Homo sapiens: one gene and its partners. Changing the gene in region 1 together with any one later gene gives a genetic interaction. Each region holds a gene or a part of one and is shown in the gene's direction. Other genes may lie near its edges. The genes, in order: PTCD1, GATB, MAPKAP1, KCTD10 and SDHC.

Region 1 (3,995 bases):
TAGCATGTATAAAAGCTGGTGCCCCACCCTAACCTTTTATTATGCAGACAGGTGGCCATCGCCATGTTGCCTGGTTCTTTACTGTACACATGGCAACAAAGAAGGGAAGATGGGGCCCCCACGTTGAACATATCTGGCTCCCAGGTAGCCCTTTTCTGTTGGCACAGCCGCCAGCATTTACCCCTGCAAGCTTCCAGTTTGCTTATCTATGTCTGCAGCTCGATTTTTCAGGCTGCTCTTTGTTAGAAAAGAAATTATTTGGGGGCTGCTTTTTATTAAAAGGGAAATTTCGCCAAGGACTCTGTTGCCCTTATTATCTGCCTAAATAATTTCTTTCAACCTCCTGTATCAGCAGGAGCAGGGCAGAGTCATGGAATCTGCTTTGTCACGGCCACAGCCTCTCCCTGCTGTTCTGAGGCTATCAGGCTCTGGGGTTTGGCTTTTGGGTCCATCGAATCACACTCTGTGCTGAGCATCTCCGGAGCATCGAGAGCCACTATGGCTTGAAGCACAGCCCGGATGGGGCGGAAACAAGTAAATGGGCAGGGACACACACAGCTAGAGGGTGCGGGGTCAGGAACGCCGTGCAGGTGTCACGCCTGAATGCCATTTTGAGGGCTTCCTACAAATAGGTGGGACAGCAATGGAAATTGTGTCTGGCTGAAGGCATAGCTGGGCATTTTTGAACTGTGTCTGTGCTTTGAACTGTTGGTTGCAAGCCTTTTCTCATTGATTCCAGGGTTTTTTATATATTCTGGGTACTGGTTTTTTGTTGATCACATGTTGTGCATATCTTCCTAGTGGATTGTCTCTTCCCTCTGGCGTAGGGCTCACTAGGGGTTCAACTCGACAGTCACAAGACTATCATAGACCTAAAGCATATCATATTTAAGTCACAGACAGATGTCCCTGACTTAAAGATGATTCTACACAGGATTTTTCAACTTTGCAATGGTTTTATCAGGATGTAACTCTGTAAGGATCGACTTTGTGCGGGGTTAGTTTCTACTGAATGTATATCACTTTTGCATAATTATAAAGTCAGGACCCTCTGCTGTGTTGCCAGCAATAGATGCATTTTCCTTTTGTTTTTTATGAGATGGAGTCTCACTCTGTCACCCAGGCTGGAGTGCAGTGATGCGATCTGGCCTCACTGCAACCTCTGCCGCCCAGGTTCAAGTGATTTTCCTGCCTCAGCCTCCCGAGTTGCTGGGATTACAGGAGCCTGCCACCACACCAGGCTAATTTTTGTGGTTTTTTTTTTTTTTTTAGTAGAGACGGGGTTTCACCATCTTGGCCAGGCTGGTCTTGAACTCCCGACCTCGTGATCCACCCACCCCAGCCTCCCAAAGTGCTGGGATTATAGTTGTGAGCCCCCATGCCGTGCCGCATTTTCTTTTTTCTTTTTTTTTTTTTTTTTTAAAGAGACGGGAATCACTCTGTTGCCCAGGCTGGAGTGCAGTGGCACGATTATGGCTCACTGTAGCCTTGACCTCCCAGGCTTAAGAAGTCCTCCCACCTTAGCCACCTGAGGAGCTGGGACTACAGGCATGTACCACTGTACCCAGCTAATCTTTTAGATAGGGTTTCACTATATTGCCCAAACTGGTCTGGAACTCCTGAGCTCATGTAATCCGCCTGCCTCGGCTTCCCAAAGCACTGGGATTATAGGAGTGAGCCAGCACACACAGCCAGATTGATTTTTGATTTACGATGGGTTTTTGGGGGGCGGAACCCTGCTGTCAGGAGCATCTGTACTCATATTCCCTCATGATGGTGGACTTGTTTATATTCGTGATTCTGTTGAGTTTTGCTTTCTGTGCTTTCAGGCTCTATCCGGCACCTTAAGGTTTAGAATTGTCCAGTCTTTTGAGTCAAACCTTTTTTTGTTTTTGTTTTTTTTTGAGATGGAGTCTTGCTCTGTCGCCCAGGCTGGAGTGCAATGGCGTGATCTCAGCTCACTGCAACCTCTGCCTCCCGGGTTCAAGCCATTCTCCTGCCTTAACCTCCCAGGTAGCTGGGGCTACAGGCATGCACCGCCACATCCAGTATTTTTAGTAGAGATGGAGTTTCACCATGCTGGCCAGGCTGGTCTCGAACTCCTGACCTCAAGTGATCTGCCCACCTCGGCCTCTCAAAGTGCTGGGATTACAGACGTGAGCCACCGCACCCGGCCAAACCTTTTGTCATTGTGTGGTAGTAGCTGTATGTTGGATAGCACTTTTTGGCTTTTTTGGTATATTCCCCTACCAGCTCTCAGTTTGTGTCTGGTGTGTCTTTGCTTTTTTCCCCATATCTCATGGAGCCTATCTTGGCAGTGTTGAGATAATGGTCAGAGGGAGGTGGCTTTGATGGGGAGGGGCTCGGCAGGCTGTGGAGGCAGAGCTGGTGGGACCCAGTGATTCTGGCTTGGGGGCCTGGGGTGGCAACTGCGGATGGAGGAGCACAGTGGTGCCTATTTGGGAAGAACGCCATTGGGCAGATGGCTCTGGGCCTGCCCCAGGGTACCCAGCGGGGACCTGTTTCTCTGAAGTAAGCTAGTCCCATAGTGCGTGTTCACAGCTTTTCTGCCCTGTCCTCTGCAGCCACCTGGAAGGGAAAATGGCAGCCACCAGCTTCCCTGAGGCCTGAGCCAGCTGCCGAGGTTTGGGATTAGCTGTAGGTAACAGGAGTGATTCTAGCCTCACTTTTCTAATTCTAGTACCAAGGGAAGAACACCTACCTGGAGAAGATTGACGGCTTCCGAGCCTATTACAAGCAGTGGCTGACAGTGATGCCCGCAGAGGAAACCCCGCACCCCTGGCAGAAGTTCCGGACCAAGCCCCAGGGGGACCAGGACACCGGCAAGGAGGCTGATGACGGATGTGCCCTTGGGGGCAGGTGATGGGAGCACAGCTGGAACAATGTGCTCGGCCCCCAGTGCTCTGTGGGAGCCCCAGGACAAGTGAGCTGGTGTCACCTCCTGCCTGGGGGAAGAGCCAGGCCCTGAGGAACAGCCGCAGCGTGTCACAGGTGTTGGTGAGGACACACACTAGGCCCAAGGTGCCTGTGCTCCCAGCAGGTCCAAGTGCAGCTCCAGCCACCTTTGCGTGTCACCTTCACGGGACTTCCAGCTCCAGCTACCTTTGTGTGTCACCTCACACACCACAAGGGGGCTGGGGCATCTGGTCCCTGGGGCCTGGGCCGCCCCGCCGGGTTCCATAGGCCGATGCTCTGAAAGAAGAGACGTGGGGCTCGAGAGATTTAAAGATTTTATTTTTACAAATCACAGCTGATAGACAGCGAAGCCTTCCCCATAGAGACCGTGCTCCAACTCGGGCCTGGGGCACTGCTCGCTGCTCCCAGGAAGGGGGTGGCGTGACAGGCAGGAACCTGCGAAGTCCAGAGTCCAGGGTGGAGCGCGCCAGCCTCAGCCAGAGCAGCCACGACAGCCACAGTGTGTGCACTCGATGATGCGGCCCTGCAACGGAGGAGGACAGTGAGACGATGCCACTGCGCCACGCTCGCCCCTGCACACTCACATATGTGGCAACCCTCCCACGAAGGACCTGCCACCATGCCATATAGGGACACACCTCAGAAACCCTTCCTTGACAGCTCTGGACAGGGAAAATTTGGCTCCCTCATGAAGGTAGAACCAGCTGCTGTTGACACCGAGGTTACATCTGTATGTCTATTTATAATATGTTCTGCAAATCCAACACACGTTTGCCAATCAAGAAAAAGAAATCGGTGTGAATGAGTCTCGTTATTCTGCTAAGTGAGCATGACAGACCCTGCGATGAGCAGACGTGGCTCTGCTACTGTTTGGGGACTTCAGGGGGGCCTCTGGGCTGGTACACTCTGGTGGGGGAAGAGGGCAGGAGACTATGCACTTGAGTCACACCCTTCTGGCCCAGAGCCCCCCAGAAAGAAGGGTCTTGTCCCCCAGGCCTGGTGCGGCCCAACACTTGGCCAGCCAGAAAGCCCTAGAACAGTGGCTTGTGTTTATTTTA
Region 2 (5,219 bases), on another chromosome or scaffold:
TGTATTAACTTTTATTATTAGAAAATGATTTTTAAAATTTAAGTCCTAGTTCAAAAAATAAACGTGTCAGAGAAAGGGGGCAGATGGACTCCTCCGACTTACAGGGCAGCTCCATGGAACGCCATCCAGGTCCCCAGTGCTTCTGCTGGCAGCACTCCACTGATAAGCATGTTGAGAGTGAGGAAGTTTCTTCCCGCTTCTGTGCCCCCTTTCTCCCAATGGTTTCCTCATTGTCAGGCCACGTACATATCTGCTGAATTGAGTTGGAGGCACGTGCATTCTGTATTTTTCTAAGAGTAGGGCCAGGCTTTTCCTGAGCAGTCGGGCAGCGGCAGAGGGGTGCCCTGTAGGGAGCTTACCCAGGACCTGCCAAGCACACCTCCTTGGCCACAGTCACAGCGCACGTTCTGAGGCACCAGGCTGAAGGCGCAGTGCCTGTCCCAGCAGTGATAAGTATTTGTGGTTTGTTTTTGAATCAGACTGGGGAAGACTTTGAGCCCTGCTGAGACTCAGAGCATCTCCCTTTTATTTGCTTTGCTGTTCGTGCTAATTATGGAAGAGCTCTGTTTTTCCAGGAGGAATGGCTCCTGGTTGGCCCGTTCTCGGCCACCAAGGTAACAGGGAAAGTTGGGTGTTCAGTCATGACTGTGGACTGGACGGAGGTGGCACCGGTGGGAGACCAACAGAGGAAGCCCTCCTCCCGGCTCCCAATTCTGGCTTTCGCTAGAAGACAAGAGAAATGAGGAAAACAGCTACCCTAGGAAATAGCCTTCCTTGAAAATGGTTTCCTTTTTCTCAGGTTTGATGAATTTGGGGATTTGTTGTTGTCATTTTTTAAGTAAAAAAAAAATGCCCCAAACATTAGCGTTCATTATCCTAGTCTGATTTGGGTCCGGCTCTACCTGTAGGAGATGAATGTGGTAGGCCAGGGGGCCCCTGTGGATTCTAATTTATGTTTTCAGTTGTTTGCCATTTTGTATCTTCATTACGGGGCTACTTTCCTGCCTCCCTAAAGTCATCTTTCCCAGCATGCTGTTTCTGGACTTTATTTAGTACCGTGGTTACCTCCTGCAGGCTGTGTGGCCCCATCCTTCACCAAAATGTCACCTCAATTAATTCGGCGGCCATGAGACAGATCCATCAGTGGCCCGCCGACTCCCGTCAGCAGGCGCCCATGAGTGATGGGCACCTCCACGCCTCCCGCGGCCCCCCCCCGCCATGTGGAGTCAGCCGGGCAGGACTCACCATCCCTCTGGGCACGAGGGCATCTGGCTGGCCCGAGTCCTCTCACACCTTATGCTGAGGGAGACTTCAGCCTCAGGAGGAGACCCCAGGTGCATTCACTCCACCTAGCTGGCCTTGTTCCCCAGCCCTGCACTCAGGGATGCCTCAGGAGAGCCAACGCTCTGGCAGGGCAGCCAGGTGCCCTTTCCCTTTGGGCCAGGCCCAGGCAGTGGGGACTTAATTGAATCTGCTCATTCCCACCCCAGCTCCACACAGCACAGCACTGCAAATGGAGCTGGCAGAAGAGCTGACTTCTCATTTCTCTTTCCTCTCCCTTCTCTGGTCCATAGGTGTTTGAGGAACTGTGGAAGAGGGAAGGCAAGACTCCAGGGCAGATTGTTTCAGAAAAGCAGCTTGAACTGATGCAGGACCAGGGGGCACTGGAGCAGCTCTGCCACTCTGTGATGGAGGCCCATCCTCAAGTGGTGACTATCTCGGGCAGGGGAGAGGGCCAGAGCCAGCCCCAGGACATGCCCAAGAGCCTCGCCATCGCTCCCTGTGGCAGCCCAGAGGCTCTTCCTAAGAATGGCTGACCCAGTTTCATCAATAATTCCCTCACTGTCATCTTTTTAGTTAAGGTCAGAAGAGATGAAATAGGTGGATATTGGAAAAACACAACTTCTTTTCCTATAAGAAGGATGCCACCCCTGGAGTTTACTCTCCATGGAGGTGTAGTTTAAAAGGGTGTCAGCAAGCTCACGAAATCCAAGCTGTGACCTCCCAGGTGTGTCGCCCTCTCCCAGGGTTGGCATTTCGAATCTGTTGTGGTTAGCGCTACTTCCTAAGGACCTCCCAGTAAAGAACCAGCAGGTGTGCCGGCAGAGCAGGGAGAGTACAGGAACTTCAGCTTCATGCTTCTAAGAGGTGGGAAGAAAGGCAGAAGGGAAAAGTATTCATAAATTGTGGAGAAAATCCCTGACAGGAGCATGACTGAAAACCAGGTCATTTTGTGTTCTTAGCACAGCACAAGACATAAAAGCTAAAACGAGTGGCATCCCTCCCTCCCCAAGTCTAATCATATTGTCTAGAGATATTTTTTCAGTGGGGAAAAAAATTGTCGGCATCTTTTTCAGAATAATACCCACCCACCCATCAGCTTGCCGGGGACACTCACAGCTCTGTAAAGAGCTCTCGATAAGGAAAATGAGCCTGCACTGGGCCTCCACAGCCTCGTCTTCCTGCCTCATCTGTGGTGACTGATAAAGACGTGCCAGTAGTTTCAGGCTTGTTCTGTGGCACTTGAGTGCAGATCCTCATGTCATTGCCCTTGGAGACGCTGCAGAGCAGGAGGTCACGTGGTGGCCCTAAGAGTCAGTGGCTATCTGATAGGAATTCAGCACCTCCTGGCTTCCTCACTCCCCCTGCCCACACAGCACACTCCCCCCGACCCAGCGCTCTGGAAGACTCGGCCAGTGTGTAGATCTGCTTTCTGATAAAGGAATCTTCTTGGTGGGGAGCAGGGGGAGAAGGAAAGCCACACATTTCAGCTGAACATCACTGAGAATCAGAGAGGTGTCCTCACTGATTAGACGCAGTGATTCATCATCTCAGAGAGATTATCCCTCCCCAGACTCAGTGTCCTCGGTCATTGTGGCGTCGCAGAGGGGAGGGCCCTGGCTCCCACGTGCCAGCTTCTCTGGCTTTCGGCAATCACTTCTTGCTCATTTTAATCAGAAAGCAGAGTAGCAAAAATCTCCTTTGACAGGAGCCTAGAAACCTACTCAGAAGTGAGGCCCCTCCCCTTTTTCTGTTCTACATTTTATGTCTAATACTAGTGGAAATAAGCGGAATTTAATTTTCAGTAAACTTAAGCCTTAGTTTGGGATTTGGGGGCATGAATCCCTTCATTTTCTCCTCTTAAGTAAGTAATTTCTGTCCTTCTAGGTAATGGATGTGAAGAACAGAAACCCCAGAGCTATAAATAAACTGATTGGGTTGGTCCGGAAAGCGACTCAAAGCCGAGCAGATCCAGTCATGATAAAGGAGATCCTGGAGAAGAAGCTGTCATTGTGAGATGTTTGGGATCCCCTTGCCCAAGGGACAACAACAAACAGTGCAGCCTGACTGGGAACAGGATCCTGTGAAAGCTGATGCCCATGTGCCCTGAGAGCTGCCTCTCAATCCCTGTCCCAAGCCACAGCTATGGCATTAATGTCACCAGTGTTCTCACCCTCTAGGCCCTGTGCCTGGAGGTGCCTCCACAGCCGACCAGCAGCCACCCCGCCTGCTTCATCCACATCAGGAGGGTCCGGTGAGGCTGCAGCAGTGGTTAAGGAGTAACACCTTCTTGTATTAAGGAATTTTAAACTAAATAAAATGTATGTTGGAGATACTGTTACCCATTCTAAGAAAACTTTTCATTCTGCAGTTCCTTCAACAAATATTTTTGAGCAACTCCTAAGGGCCAGCCATTGTAGGTGATGGGCATTAGCAGTGGTCAAGAGAGACTGTAATTTGGATGTATTGTTTTCAGACCTAAACACAGGTTAACAAAGATGAAAATACAACCAAATAAACTGGCACAGTATAAACACATTTGTTTGTTTAAGGAGGTCTCAAGAGGGTGGGGAAGGAGGATATTATTAGAATTAATCAACCTATCGACTGAGTAGAAGTGATATTGCCTGTTAAACTCCCTCCCCATCCCAGAAGGCACAGTCTGAGAATAAATGAATTAAAAAAATAAGTTTTCCAATAAATTTAATCAATAAAATATATACTGAAATATCACATAAAAATTAACTTACACTTCAAAGATTGTGCAGCTGACAACTCCCCCAAATCCCCCAACCCTCAGGCCAAACAAGATAAAAAGAAACAAGAAAAAAGTTGTAACATGAAATTGACTTGTTTTGCTTGGAAATAAGATTATAAATTAGTAAATCAAAATCTTGACCTCTCATGATAATCGTGGTGTGCTGCAGGCATCACGATGAAGGCGGGGCTGTCTGCACTCCTGTGCTTGCGACACTAATACTGTTCTCTCCACTGCACCGGAGCACCTTTGTTCGGTATATATATGCCTTTGTTACCTCTGACTCACGTCGCTTAAAGACCAGTTTTGCAAATGTTGTTTTTTAAAAGCATACTTGTCAAAACTGTGATGTAAGAGAATAAAATCCTTGGAGGCCTTGATTTGAAGCTGTGAACCTGTAGCCTACCAAGGACAGTAAAAACATTCCCGTTGTGAACACTGCTCCAGAAGCAGCTGAGGAACTAGAAAAAAGTGGACACCCCTCCATCACCAATTCAGCGACTCATGCTTCCTGGCTTGCACAGTTCCTCAGGACTTCCCTGAGAGTGATGAGAAAGGTGCCCCTCTTCCCCAGCCCAAAAGGTAGGCAGAGAAAGGTAACCAGTTGCGTGGTTCATTTTGGACAGGCATGAGGAGGTGGCTTTTTAAAAAAAGTCGTTTAAAAAAATTAGTGACAGAATTTTAAGAGACTATGTGACCTTACCCGGGAAGCCAGGTGCCCCGCATCCTGTTGCGGTCCTGAAAACTACTGGGTCTAAAGTAACATGATTTTCACCAAATCTCTCTACAAGACAGTAAGGCTGAAGCAGTTCTCTCCTCACTCTGCAAGTCTGAATTACAAATGGGCAAAGGTGGTCTGAGACTGGAGTCTGACAGGATCTTTATTTTGTAAGAAAGGAGAAGGTTCAGTTTCATTTTATAAATTCTGTTTTCACCAAAAGTTCTGGCTTCTTGGTGACTAAACCTTACAGAAAGCATCGAAGATCTTTCCAGACCATTTAAAATTAAAGGCTTACTTAAAAGGGGGTGCAGCCAGAAAAAGACATTTACCAAAACTATTATGTCAAGTGCAAACTGTATTAAGGACTGATTATTCCCAGAGGAAGATGCCCTTGTTAAAGCACTTGATTTGTCCAGGCTGATTCTCATTCAGCTCTGACAAACTGCCTGTTGTCTTGAA
Region 3 (4,715 bases), on another chromosome or scaffold:
AAATAAGAAGTTGATTGTATAGTAGGTAATTTTGATTATAAATTTTATTTTAAAAACACAGGCCAGGCATGGTGGCTCACGCCTGTAATCACAGCACTTTGGGAGGCCAAGGCGGGCGGATCAACTGAGGTCGGGAGTTTGAGACCAGCCTGACCAACATGGAGAAACCCCATTTCTACTAAAAATACAAAATTAGCTGGGCATGGTGGCGCATCCCTGTAATCCCAGCTACGCGGGAGGCTGAGGCCGGAGAATCTTGAACCTGGGAGGTGGAGGTTGCAGTGAGCCAAGATCACGCCACTGCACTCCAGCCTGGGCAACAAGCGCGATACCCTGTCTCAGAAAAAACACAACAACAACAACAACAAAAACACAATACTATCTTGACAGGAAAATATATTCATTGAGCAACATTAATTTGGTGGTACATCATTTTTATAAAACCCCTAGTAACTCTGAAAGCATTGTCTGTGCCCTTTTAAACACTTCACAATCATATGACAGGAGGGGAAATGTAAACTGATGAAATAGAGTTTTGTACTTTAGCACATCATTTGAGGAAAATACAACTTGTTCCCCCATGACCTTATAAAGTAATGAGAAGATTGCATGATAGTGAAGGGAGAAAGAAAGGAAAATATATTGTTTTAACAGTAGTTATGTGCTTCGAGTGGCCTGACTTGTAAGGAGTTGCTGTGATTTGTTTTGCAAGAGTGCAAGCCTTCCTTTCTGATTCTATAGAGATCTCATTGACTAGAGCTGCAGCCCCTAGTGCTTATAAGGATTTCCTTTCAGCTTAGACTAAATCCTTTTAAGCTCCACAGAACAGGGATAAATGTTGATTTTCAAGGTGGCATTTTACTACACTGAATGTGTCTGAAAAATGATTCAGTCATTTTCTGCCTTATTCTTAAATATTTGCTGTGTACATCATGTTTCTAGGTAGGTGAGCTCGTGAAACAATATGAAGAGGAGAAAATAGCCTTTTAAGGAAATTGGCCCACAGAAAGGATGGCCTTCTTGGACAATCCAACTATCATTCTAGCTCATATTCGACAGTCACATGTGACCAGTGATGACACGGGAATGTGTGAGATGGTTCTCATTGATCATGATGTTGACCTAGAGAAGATTCATCCTCCTTCAATGCCTGGAGACAGTGGGTCAGAAATTCAGGGAAGCAATGGTGAGACTCAGGGCTATGTATATGCCCAGTCAGTCGATATTACCTCAAGTTGGGACTTTGGTATTAGAAGACGCTCAAACACAGGTAAACATTGTGTTCTAGTCATGTCTTCTGAGCTTTAAATCAGTAAACAGTCTTATGGAATAATGCATAATATTGGAATAGGCTTAATGGGGGATGTTTCCGGGTATTAATAGGAACATGCATATGTCAGACTAAGAGTGAGTCTGAGCAACATCTCCATCTCTGCGACTGCGAATGGAGAGGGCCTCTAGAATATTATTAGAAGTAGACAGAAGGGGGATAGTGAAAAAGTTGGTTAGGAGAGACATGTTGGACATTTCTAACAAGTCATTGTGTAGAAAGGCAAGTGGACTGGCTTTGAGTGTCTTCACACAGCAACATTAGTCCCAGTAGGTAGACTACCCGGAGACAGATTTCAGGTTGACATAATAAAGAGCATTTAATACAGAGAGGTGACCACCCAAAGAGAGCAGGCACTTCTTGCCCCTGGAGGAATTGTGGGGGAGTGGGGAAATGGGAGGAGACACCTGAGTATTTGTTAGGGCTGGTTTTAGTAGGATTCTATACATAGGGTGTGAGATTAGAAAAGGGGCCCCTGTTTTTGATACTTCGCCTTTATTTTCTTAAATTGATCACCTTTTGATTTTTCTGGCTTGAAAACACTCAACTTTGGTATACACGTATTTAGTCATTAGCTTTAAAAGCTTATTGCCCATTTTCCCACTTATATTTTTTTGGTGGCCTTGTTTCAAGGGGAATGTGATGAACCAAGGACTTTTTTTTTTACTTAGACAAATTATTTAGAATACATATTGTAGTTCTAATATGACAGGTATTCTAGGAGGTAATTTTTTTTAGATAATCAGAAAATATAATCTTCAAATTAGCAGTAACCTGCTAACTCCCAGGAAAGGTAATGGCAAGGAGATATAGTAGAACACTGAAAATACTTACATATTTATTTTCATGGTCCAAATGTAAAACACACATAAAGGAATATTGGAGGTAGAGCTGGATACAATTTACTGTGAAAGGCACATTCAAGTTTTGGTTCAGAATTCAGTATCTGTGACATAAGAATAATTTGCTCTCATGATGAAAATAATTAATAGCATTTCCCAGTATCTAAAGGAACTTTTGTCAAAATAGGATTTGAGTGAAGGTTTGAATATAATTTAGAACCATTGATTTTCAGTTCTCTAGTTGAAACTGACTTCCTTGCAGGTTATTGAGATGATATCTTATATGACAGGTTGAATGTATTTCAGTGGGAGAATGCTGCTAAATTGAGAGCTTTATGATTATATTACTTTGGCTGTACCCTTCACATTTATTAATTGCAATTGAATGTAGTTTTCTTCAGTGTTGGTTAGATATAGTGACATTGTCAGAATGCTCTTCCCAGCATAGTTTAAATTTCTGGTAAGATTATTTTCAGTGTTTCCCTACCACAATGCTAAGGCAGAAGTGTATAATTTCCTATCTTGAAAGAGGCGGAAAAAGAGATGTATTTATTTTCTATTAGCAAAATGCTGGGATAGGAAGCTGAAGATTAGCAAGAGAAAACTGATTTCAAGAGATGGCATCAATTGTGACTTTCTTTTTTATTGTGGTCTCTGTATGCGGCAGTTGTTAAGTGCATGCTGGGTGGTATTTCTCTAAAGGATCAGTTCACTGATTTTTGAAGGTTGATCAGCCAGTGGCAATATAATCACAAATGCATAATTTTAGGTGACTCTTGTTGGAATTTCTTTAGGTAGCACTTAGATGCTAATAATTAATTGAGATTGTAGGTTGTCTTAGTGACCAAAGAATTTACTTTTTAATCCATGCAGCATATCTTAAAATTTTGTAAAAGAAAAATTGTTCTTTTTAAGATTTGACTAATGTTACAAAGATACAAATCATTTATTTTACTACCTATAAACTGTTTCAGCCCACTGAAGAAAAGCTATGCTAATTTATATAGCTTTGACATTTTATAATTTTCATGATTTTTAGATAAAGGATTTTATATTTAAAACTTTAATAGTCTAGTCTGAGTTCATTTATCTTTAATTTTTGAAATGGGTAGAGTAATTCATAACAGTAATTTTATTCCTGTAATGTAATATTCACTTCAGTTCATTTGTGCATTAAAATTCCTTTAAGACCGTTATTAATGATTTATATAATGAAATGTCATATTAATCACAGAAGTTTTCACATTTTATTATTCTCTTCCATGTTAATACTATCTTTATGATCTCTATTAGTGTTTTATATCCTCTAATTTCAATTATAAATCAAGAATATTTTCATGTTTTTGTTGGTATTTGCTTTTCAGGGGTGCCACCTTTAAAATTTTATGACTTTTTCTCTACATATGCAATATAAAACATCTTTATTCATGTAAAGGTAGTTAATTATGTCTTTGTTTATGGTAAACTTTCATTGACAAACTTACAGTTATAATATTTCTTTTCAAGCTCAAAGATTAGAACGACTCCGAAAAGAGAGACAAAACCAGATCAAATGCAAAAATATTCAGTGGAAAGAAAGAAATTCTAAGCAATCAGGTAAATGGAAATGATTTTAATTCTTAATTTGAGATTTATATATTTAGTTTATTATATAAGAACTTTTATTTTTAATTCATCCTTTTAAATCCTCTGGACTTAGATACCTCTAGTGTTTTGAGCTTTGAGCTCTTTCTCTTGTGTGCCTTGACCCTCTGAAGCTATATGCTCTTTAGTTCTTGGCTTTTTGGCCACCCTTCACTCTGGGTCACAGGGATTGATGTGTGCAGGGGACATTTTTTACAAGCTGTCATGTCAGTATTTTTTTCTGATTTTTTAAAAAAATATAGGCCAAGGAGTACCCTATGATTTGATTTTTATTATTATTATTTTTTTTGAGATAGTGTTTCACTCTTTTTGCCCAGGCCGGAGTGCAATGGCACGGTCTTGGCTCACTGCAGCCTCTGCCTCCCCGGTTCAAGCGATTCTCCTGCCTCAACGTCCTCAGTAGCTGGGATTACAGGCGCATGCCACCACACCTGGCTAATTTTGTATTTTTAGTAGAGATGGGATTTCACCATGTTGGCCAGGCTGGTCTTGAACTCCTGACCTCCAGTAATCCACCCACCGTGGCCTCCTGAGGTGCTGGGATTACAGGCATGAGCCACTGTGCCCAGCCGATTTTTTTTTTTTTTTTTGAGACGGAGTCTTGCTGTGTCACCCAGGCTGGAGTGCAGTGGTGCCATCTCGGCTCACTGCAGCCTCCGCCTCCCTGGTTCAAGCAATTCTCCTGCCTCAGCCTCCCAAGTAGTTGGGACTACAGGTGCACACCACCATGCCTGGCTAAGTTTTGTATTTTTAGTAGAGATGGAGTTTCACCATGCCAGGCTGTTCTCGAACTCCTGGCCTCAAGTGATCCACCTGCCTTGGCTTCCCAAAGTGCTGGGATTATAGGCGTGAGCCACTGCGCCCAGCCCCTGTGATATTTTGGATGAGTTTCCAGGTTA
Region 4 (4,715 bases), on another chromosome or scaffold:
ATAACCTTGAATTGAATATTGTCCATGACTGTCGCGTTGCTTCTGCTGTTGCAAGCTGCCTCCCTTTACTCCCAGTCCCATTTACAAAAATAACGTTTGTGTTTTACCAGTTATAGTTGTAGTACCCATTCATTATAGAAAATCTGGAAAAGCTAGACAATTCTTTTTCAGTTTCAGGGAATAGTTCAAACAAGTTATGTGCTGTCAGTGCCCTGCAGCCAAAAAGCACGAGGAGCATACCTGTAGTCAAGCAAAGTTGGGTTTATTTCCTTGTTGCATTGGGGTGGGGAAGAACTGTGGGACATCTCAGAGAAGGGCTGTGGGCTTGTGTTGGGTGATTTGAGAGACAGTTCAGAGAAGTGGGGCTTTGCTCTGTGTTGGATGCTGCTGGGAAGCAGGGCTAATTCTGTGATTGGGTCTCAGTGATTCCTGACTTGAAAGCAGGAAGAATGGAAGGAGGCTAAACCTCTCATTGGTAAAGCAGCAGCTATAACTCCTATTAGCCAGGATAGGGGATCTTTGGTCATTTTTGTATTTTGGATAATGTTTATGTTTTTGTCTGTGTCCGGACATGATGACTGAATGGTCCTGTTTTTGTCTTGTCGCAAGGGCACAGAGTGGCCTTGTCTGAGGGTGATGTGCTGTGAAAAACTGTTGATGTTCAATGGGAATGGTAGGGCCAGCCGTGGGGGCTACCCCAGATTCAGCAAAGATTCTGCCCACCCTTGCACATCTCCACCTCTACAGTTTTACCTGTTCATTTCAGACATGTTTGCTCTGAGTACACATGTGCCGGATACCAATCTCACTTTCCAGGCCTGCGTAAATCAGCCACTGTATCCATTTCTTTGAGATGTACAGAGAGTCAGCCATGCTATCAGGGAGATGGTAGTGGGATCTTGCTCTTTTGGGCAGCACTAGTCTAGGAGGTCTAATTTTGCAATAACTTGGTTCCAAAAGTTTCCATGTCTGTTGTTTAGTCCTCAGAAACACCTTCTCCCTACAGGAAGTGATAGGAGTGCCAGCTGGAATCCCATTCAACTTCATAAAGCTTATTTCATCTGTGATGCAGCTGAAAAATGACACTTAGCTAGCTATTGAGTGGTACATGGCAATAAGGAAATGTAAAGAGACCTGGGCAGTGCTTTAGGCTGTTTTAGGGTGCAGCCAGGGTGTTCATGTATACAGGTGCTAGGCAGAAAGGAAGTGCTTATAACACAAGAGTTAGGGGCACCCTTGTGCCTGCAGGGTCGACAGGCAGGGTCAGTGTATGAGGCTTTTTGGGTGGGTTTTGGGACAAACTAGGGGATGCATGGCCCTCTCTAGGGGTCATCCAATACCCCAGCTCTGACCAGTTGTTCCCCTGCTAGCCCAGTTGGCCTCTGATTTTAGGAGAAGCCAGAAGTCCAGATTTTTCTGTGAGCTCTCCTTAGTTGTCCACATTGGAAGCAAACTTTTAAATGCTGTGTATGCGTGGCCCAAGCAAAACACATCTGGAGGCCAGATTGAATCCACAGGCTGAAAGCAGTCAACCAGGCCTGATGTCATGACCCTGTATCCTCTCCACTGGCAGGAAGAGATGTCAGGAGAAAGTGTGGTGAGCTCAGCGGTGCCAGCGGCTGCTACCCGCACCACTTCCTTCAAGGGCACGAGCCCCAGCTCCAAATACGTGAAGCTGAATGTGGGTGGAGCCCTCTACTATACCACCATGCAGACGCTGACCAAGCAGGACACCATGCTGAAGGCCATGTTCAGCGGGCGCATGGAAGTGCTCACCGACAGTGAAGGTAAGCTCACCCACCATGTGCCTGCCTCTGGCCATGCGTTATGTGGTCAAGGAGGGCTTCCCTGAAGAAGTGACATTTAAGTCGAGACCTGAAGATGTGTAGGAGGCAGCTTGTTGGGGACTCCCACCATCTTGACTTGGTCGTTGATTTGCTATGTTACTTTGAGAAAGTCACTTCCTCACCCAGGGCTTAGCTTGCTTATCTCTGCCATGCTTCTGTGACTTCAGAGTGAAACTCAAGCCTGGGGGAGAGAGAGGTATCTTCCCTGGACCCTTGTCCTCCCAAGATGGGGTCTTGACAAAGACTTGCCAACCTGGGTTTCAGTCTCAGCTCCCCATTAGTATCTGGTGATCCTAACCAAGTGGCCGAAGCTTTTGGTCTCATTTTCTTCCTCTGGTGAAATGGGCATGACAATACCCTCCCCCGTGGGGCCATCGGCACATAGTCAGTATTCAGTGCATGTGTGTATATGTGTGTGTGTAGATAGATAGATAGATATACACACACACACACACGTTTTTCTTTTTCTTGTGGAAAGTCATGTTATTAAAAGGCAAAGAATCGGCTGGGCACAGTGGCTCATGCATGTAATCCCAGCACTTTGGGAAGCTGAGGCGGGCGGATCACGAGGTCAGGAGATCGAGACCATCCTGGCTAACAAGGTGAAACCCCATCTCTACTAAAAATACAAAAAATTAGCCGGGCGTGGTGGTGGGTGCCTGTAGTCCCAGCTACTCGGGAGGCTGAGGCAGGAGAATGACGTGAACTCGGGAGGCGGAGCTTGCAGTGAGCTGAGATCGCGCCACTGCACTCCAGCCTGGGCGACAGAGCGAGACTCCGTCTCAAAAAAAAAAAAAAAAAGGCAAAGAATTGTTGAGAGGGGCATTGTCATAACTACTTCCTACTCACCTGGAATGATCAAAGAGCCCCTGACAACAGGGCTCCATCCTTACCTGGCTGGGTTTGCGTGCAGGTCACATGAGGTTTAAAAATAGTACCATCCTTCATTCCTTGGCCTGAGATTGCTTAAGACCAGGCCAGGGCACAGCCTGGCTTGACCTTGACCCCGCCTTCCTGTTTCTGAGACTGGTCTTCTGTGCTGCTGCCCTACCTTTCCAGGGACATTGACTTGGGAGGGTGGGTGAGTTTTCACATAAGCGGGTGGGATTGGGGGACCTAAGCCTGGTGTCCCACAGTTAATTCTCTGATCCTAAGAGGGCTGAGGCTTGGGCTACCCACTGGTGAGGACATTCCTCTCTGTGTCCTGGGGAAGGCCAGGGTGTGGGGCTGGAGGTTCTGCTTCCTGTGAACTCCGGTTTCTGTTCAGGCAGCAGCGAACTGAGGTTGGAGCCCCAAAGCTGCCATCTCACACTTAGCTTTTTATGAGTGGGAGGATCCTCTTTGCTGTGCCACACCCCACATGGCCCGAGAGTATCTGTGGAAATCAAGACAATAGCACCCCCGCTGCTGGAGGAAGCAGGCATTATCTGAGAACCAGGATTGTTGTGGTTTTTCTCATACCCTACCCACTCTCTGGAGGGGCTCAGGAAAGGCTGCTGAGTTGCCTCGAAAGCTGAGGCTCTTCTCCTCGAAAGGCCTCGCCTTGGTGGCCTGATGCCATATCAAAAAAGAAACGGACTCCTCTGTCCCCCTGTCCCCGACTGGACAGAGCATACGAGTGGTACTGGCAGGACTGCTCACCTTCTAAATCCCTGCTATGAGATGTTTTTCTCCTGGTGCTGCCTGGAAAACACAGGTTCTCGGGGGACACAGTGTCATTTTGACACTGCAAACTGTGACTTGTTTCATGTCACCGGAGCTCAGCCCCTGCTTCATATCATTATGAAAAGCTAATGGTATGGCATTTTATGGGGCATTCTTTTCTCTTTTTTTGAGACAGGGTCTTTCTCTGTCACCCAGGCTGAAGTGCACTAGGGCCATCATAGCTCACGGCAGCCTCCATCTCCTGGGTTCAAGCAATCCTCCCGCCTCAGCCTTCTGTGTAGCTGGGAATACAGGCATGCACCACCAAACACAGCTAATTTTTAGAATTTTTTTCTGGAGATGGGGCCTCACTATGTTGCCCAGGCTGGCCTCGAACTCCTGGGCTCAAGCCATCCTCTCACCTCAGCCTCCCAAAATGCTGGGATTACAGGCGTGAGCCACCACGCACAGCCGATGGGTATTGTTTCATTTAATCCTCACCATAACCCTTCGAGGGGTGGATACTGTTGTTGCCATTCCAAGTGAGGAGTCCCCATTTCAGAGGTGAAATGCTTTTTCAAAAGCTGATGGGACTAGAAAAGGTGAAGCTGCTGAACCCAGGACTTGCTGCCTCTTACTGTCTGCTGTCCATGGCTAGTTGTGGGCCTGGTCCAAGGCCAGATCATTTGAGTGTGGCATCCTTATGGTTTAACTGCTGTCTTTGTGCTAAAGCCCTCTGGTGGGGGCCCTCGTGAAGGCCTGGGCTGGTAGGCTGGGTATCTGGCCTTCCAGCTGTTGTCTGTGTCTGGCAGAGCGATCCTGTCGGTCCTTGGAGAGAGCACTGCATAGCCTGACCCATGGCCTGCATGTTGCCTCAAATGCACCCTTGGGTCTACAAACTGGGATAGACTCCCTGCATCCTGCAGCTCTACCCTGGCCTACAGGCTGGAAGCCTGTCAGCTGCAATGAAGTTTGCTACAAATAGGCAGAAATGCCAAGTGCAGCTCAGCCAGGCAGTGAATCCAGCAGTACAGCTTGCTGGTTAAAGGACAGGGGCTTTGAAGGTCCTGAACAGGGGATGTGTCATGTTGCCCAAGAAAGTGATTGCTTCAGGAGAGGGGACCTGGCATCCAGCATGGGGGGAATAGTCTCCTTTTTGCTCTGGGCCCTTCTACCTGATTGAGTTTTGTACTGTGTGCAAGTAACTCCTAAACCAAGAAGAAC
Region 5 (3,378 bases), on another chromosome or scaffold:
AATTAGCCGGGCATGGTGGCACATGCCTGTAATCCCAGCTACTCGGGAGGCTGAGGCAGGAGACTTGCTTGAACCCGGGAGGCAGAGGTTTCAGTGAGCTGAGATCATGCCATTGTACTCCATCCAGCCTGGGCAACAAGAGCGAAATTCCGTCTCAAAAAAAAAAAAAAAAATACAAAAATTAGCTGGGGGTGGTGGCATGTGCCTGTAATCCCAGCTACTTGGGAGGCTGAGGCAGGAGAATCCAGGAGGCAGAGGTTGCAGTGAGCCAAGATCATGCCACTGCACTCTAGCCTGGGTGACAAAAGTGAAACTCAGTCTCAAAAAAAAAAAAAAGAAAAGATTTTATATTTTGTAGTCTCCCTAGTTTTGCTTCCAAGAAGGCAATTAAAATTCAGTTCTTTCTGTATTTTCATTACTTCTGAATCTGAGTCAACTGTCAGATGGATGCTTTTGCCTTAATTTGACTTTTTATTACTTCCAAATCATAGCCTTAGAGACAAGCACTTTCTGGATTTCAGTCTGGTCCAATAGACAGTTTAATGGAATAAAAAAAATGAGAGACTAAATTACTTATTAAATTAAGTGTCTGTATCAACTGTTCCCTGGGGCAGTGTTCAGTTTGATTTAAAATGACTTTTTACTTCCCTGAGGGGGAGGCAGTAGAGAGGGAGGACATTTCCATTAATGACTTCCTATTCCACAGAACAAAGCTCTGTAAAGAAAATCAGCTGATCAGCTTCCTCTGTTCATATTTTGGCTCAGACAGAGACTTGCCCTATATTTGTCTTTGTCTCAATATGGGGGTAAGAGAGGGGAGGTTTTATAAAATTGCAGAACTTAGAGCTTTTCTGCCCTGGTTCTTGCCTGTGATGGTAATCTTTTTGTTGAGGGAAGTGAAGAACCTAAGGGTCCTTAAGTCTGCTTTTATTTTTTCTTCTAGCAAGTACTGGCTGTGAGTGTGGGACAGGATTTTGTGTTTTCTGTGACAGTCTGCAGTTTTTGGCCTCTGAACTTGATAGTTGACTTGCCAGAAGATCTAATGGGGGAGTGAGGAGTGAAAGAGTAGGATGTTATAGGGTCTGTGGCATTCTAGGGAATATCCCTGCCTACTACTGCTACCCAGTAGGACTCACTCTCTATAAAACATTGTCCTTATTTAAGCAAAACAACTCTTTGTGGAATCTGCTTGACTCCTAATCTCCTAGTTAGAAGCAATTTGAGGGTTGAGGTGGAGGCATCTTCTCATCTTGATTTTTTTTTTTTTTTCTGGGCTTCCATCTTTTCTCTGAACTGACTCCTAATTTAGGCAGTTTTACATTCAGACTGTGGGTGTATGTGTGTATGTGTGTGTTAAGGCGCCATGTATGTGGGAAGTGTGGAAAATGAAGACTGCTTTTGCCCCATGGGCTCATTTAGTGACTTATAATATAATATTAATATGTTAATATCCCTAAGACACAAGAGAGTCAAAATTAGTGTTTTGTTAAATGTGGGGCTGGGGGCATGGTAGCTCATGTCTGTAACCCTAGCACTTTGGGAGGCCAAGGCAGGTGAATTGCTTGAGCTCAGGAGTTCAAAACTAGCCTGGGCAACGTGGCAAAACTTCATCTCTACCAAAAATACAAAAAATTAGCTGGGCATGGTGATGGGTGCCTGTAGTCCCAGCTACTTGGGAGGCTGAGGCAGGAGGATTGCTTGAACCTGGGAGGTCAAGGCCTCAGTGAGCTGAGATTGTGCCACTGCACTCCAGCCTAGGTGACAAAGTGAGACCCTGTCTCAAAAAATTAAAAAAAAAAAAGTGGGGGTGGGTGGTGGGGTAGGGGCTGGGTGAGATGGCTCACACCTGTAATCTCAGCACTTTGGGAGGCTGAGGCGGGAGGATTGCTTGAGCCCAGGAGTTCAATACTAGCCTGGGCAAGACATAACAAGAGTCTATCTCTATTTTTTAGTATTAAAAAGAAAAGTGGGTTTTAACTCAATTGGTAGAAAACCAATTTAGTGGCATGCTACCAACAAAAAAAGAAATTTAAATAGAATAGAAAATATAGGCTGGGGCTGGGCGTGGTGGCTCATGCCTGTAATCCCAGCACTTTGGGAGGCTGAGGAGGGTGTATCACTTGAGGTCAAGAGTTTGAGACCATCCTGGCCAACATGGTGAAACCCCATCTCTACTAAAAATACAAAAATTAGCTTGGCATGGTGGCATGCGCCTGTAGTCCCAGCCACTGGCAGGGCTGAGGCAAGAGAATCGCTTGAACCTGGGAGGCTGACGTTGCTGTGAGCCAAGATGGCGCCACTGGAGTGGCTGGGTGCAGAAGTTCACGCCCGTAATGCCAGCTTTTAGGGAAGCAGAGGCAGGAGGATAGCTTGAGTCCAGGAGTTCAAGACCTGCCTGAACAATATAATGAGACCCCGTTCTCCACAAAAAGGAGAAAATATATGTTTTTTAATGAAGTTTATTTATATATAAAATATATAAATATATACTTGTATATATATGGCACCACTTAGTAATGGTAAATATTGTTTTATCAACTTTTGCTATATTATATATACATATCTATTGGGTTCCAGTTTTAAAGGTATTTCTTAGTGGAGTCACAGTCAAAACAAAATTGAGAAATAGTGTTCTAGATCTCAGAGTATCCTTTAGAATACTAGTCCTCTGATAAATAGAGTTTCCCTCTATAAAAAGATTCTGAGATTGACTGTATCTAGGAAATCAGGCATATTATATCTCTCTTTTGGAGATTCACAGTGTGCATTAGTAAACTGTAAGAGGCTGGGCGCAGTGGCTCACGCCTGTAATCCCAGCATTCTGGGAGGACAAGGCGGGCAGATCACGAGATCAGGAGATCAAGACCATCCTGGCTAACTCGATGAAACCCCATCTCTACTAAAAATACAAAAACAAAATTAGCCAGGCGTGGTGGCGTGTGCCTCTAGTCCCAGCTACTTGGGAGGCTGAGGCAAGAGAATGGCATGAACCTGGGAGGTGGAGCTTGCAGTGAGCTGAGATCATGCCACTGCACTCCAGCCTGGGCGACAGAGTGAGAGTCCGTCTCAAAAAAAAAAAAAAAAAAAAAACTGTTTAGAAAGTCTTGCAGTTAAATGTTTATGAACTTTGTATGACCACAGAACTTTTTTTTTTTTGGCCCATACAATGGCTTTCAACATTCTGAGAGCAAGTGTTTGGAAGAATACACCTTGAGAAACATTAATCTAGATGTGTGGTCCTGAGGAAAAGTTGTATCTATTCATTCTGGAAGCTTTTGTATACCGTATGGGGCCTGTGGCATTCTAGAGAACATTCCTCCTACCATCACCACACAATAGAACCTGATTTTCTGTCATTGGAATAAGTGGATAATAGGT

What was found.
Region 2: changes in PTCD1 (region 1) and GATB together harm fitness less than expected from each alone (positive genetic interaction), as found in Homo sapiens cells (one large-scale study listed by BioGRID).
Region 3: changes in PTCD1 (region 1) and MAPKAP1 together harm fitness more than expected from each alone (negative genetic interaction), as found in Homo sapiens cells (one large-scale study listed by BioGRID).
Region 4: changes in PTCD1 (region 1) and KCTD10 together harm fitness more than expected from each alone (negative genetic interaction), as found in Homo sapiens cells (one large-scale study listed by BioGRID).
Region 5: changes in PTCD1 (region 1) and SDHC together harm fitness less than expected from each alone (positive genetic interaction), as found in Homo sapiens cells (one large-scale study listed by BioGRID).

The regions. Positions count from the first base shown.
Region 1 is NC_000007.14:99,418,856-99,422,850, reverse strand, and holds part of PTCD1 (pentatricopeptide repeat-containing protein 1, mitochondrial), read left to right. Parts: intron 1-2,701; coding exon 2,702-2,884; 3' UTR 2,885-3,409; coding exon of another isoform or gene 3,410-3,460; 3' UTR 3,461-3,677; coding exon of another isoform or gene 3,678-3,689; 3' UTR 3,690-3,995. Other genes in the region: ATP5MF-PTCD1 (ATP5J2-PTCD1 fusion protein), read left to right, coding at 2,702-2,884. UniProt on the Homo sapiens protein: Mitochondrial protein implicated in negative regulation of leucine tRNA levels, as well as negative regulation of mitochondria-encoded proteins and COX activity. Also affects the 3'-processing of mitochondrial tRNAs.
Region 2 is NC_000004.12:151,669,252-151,674,470, reverse strand, and holds the end of GATB (glutamyl-tRNA(Gln) amidotransferase subunit B, mitochondrial isoform 1 precursor), read left to right. Parts: exon of another isoform or gene 1-1,574; coding exon 1,575-1,709; exon of another isoform or gene 1,710-2,882; intron 2,883-3,168; coding exon 3,169-3,297; 3' UTR 3,298-3,967; downstream 3,968-5,219. UniProt on the Homo sapiens protein: Allows the formation of correctly charged Gln-tRNA(Gln) through the transamidation of misacylated Glu-tRNA(Gln) in the mitochondria. The reaction takes place in the presence of glutamine and ATP through an activated gamma-phospho-Glu-tRNA(Gln).
Region 3 is NC_000009.12:125,668,871-125,673,585, reverse strand, and holds part of MAPKAP1 (target of rapamycin complex 2 subunit MAPKAP1), read left to right. Parts: intron 1-942; 5' UTR 943-1,011; coding exon 1,012-1,270; intron 1,271-3,678; coding exon 3,679-3,768; intron 3,769-4,715. UniProt on the Homo sapiens protein: Component of the mechanistic target of rapamycin complex 2 (mTORC2), which transduces signals from growth factors to pathways involved in proliferation, cytoskeletal organization, lipogenesis and anabolic output.
Region 4 is NC_000012.12:109,466,587-109,471,301, reverse strand, and holds part of KCTD10 (BTB/POZ domain-containing adapter for CUL3-mediated RhoA degradation protein 3), read left to right. Parts: intron 1-1,573; coding exon 1,574-1,787; intron 1,788-4,715. UniProt on the Homo sapiens protein: Substrate-specific adapter of a BCR (BTB-CUL3-RBX1) E3 ubiquitin-protein ligase complex. The BCR(BACURD3) E3 ubiquitin ligase complex mediates the ubiquitination of target proteins, leading to their degradation by the proteasome.
Region 5 is NC_000001.11:161,358,775-161,362,152, forward strand, and holds part of SDHC (succinate dehydrogenase cytochrome b560 subunit, mitochondrial isoform 1 precursor), read left to right. Parts: intron 1-3,378. UniProt on the Homo sapiens protein: Membrane-anchoring subunit of succinate dehydrogenase (SDH) that is involved in complex II of the mitochondrial electron transport chain and is responsible for transferring electrons from succinate to ubiquinone (coenzyme Q).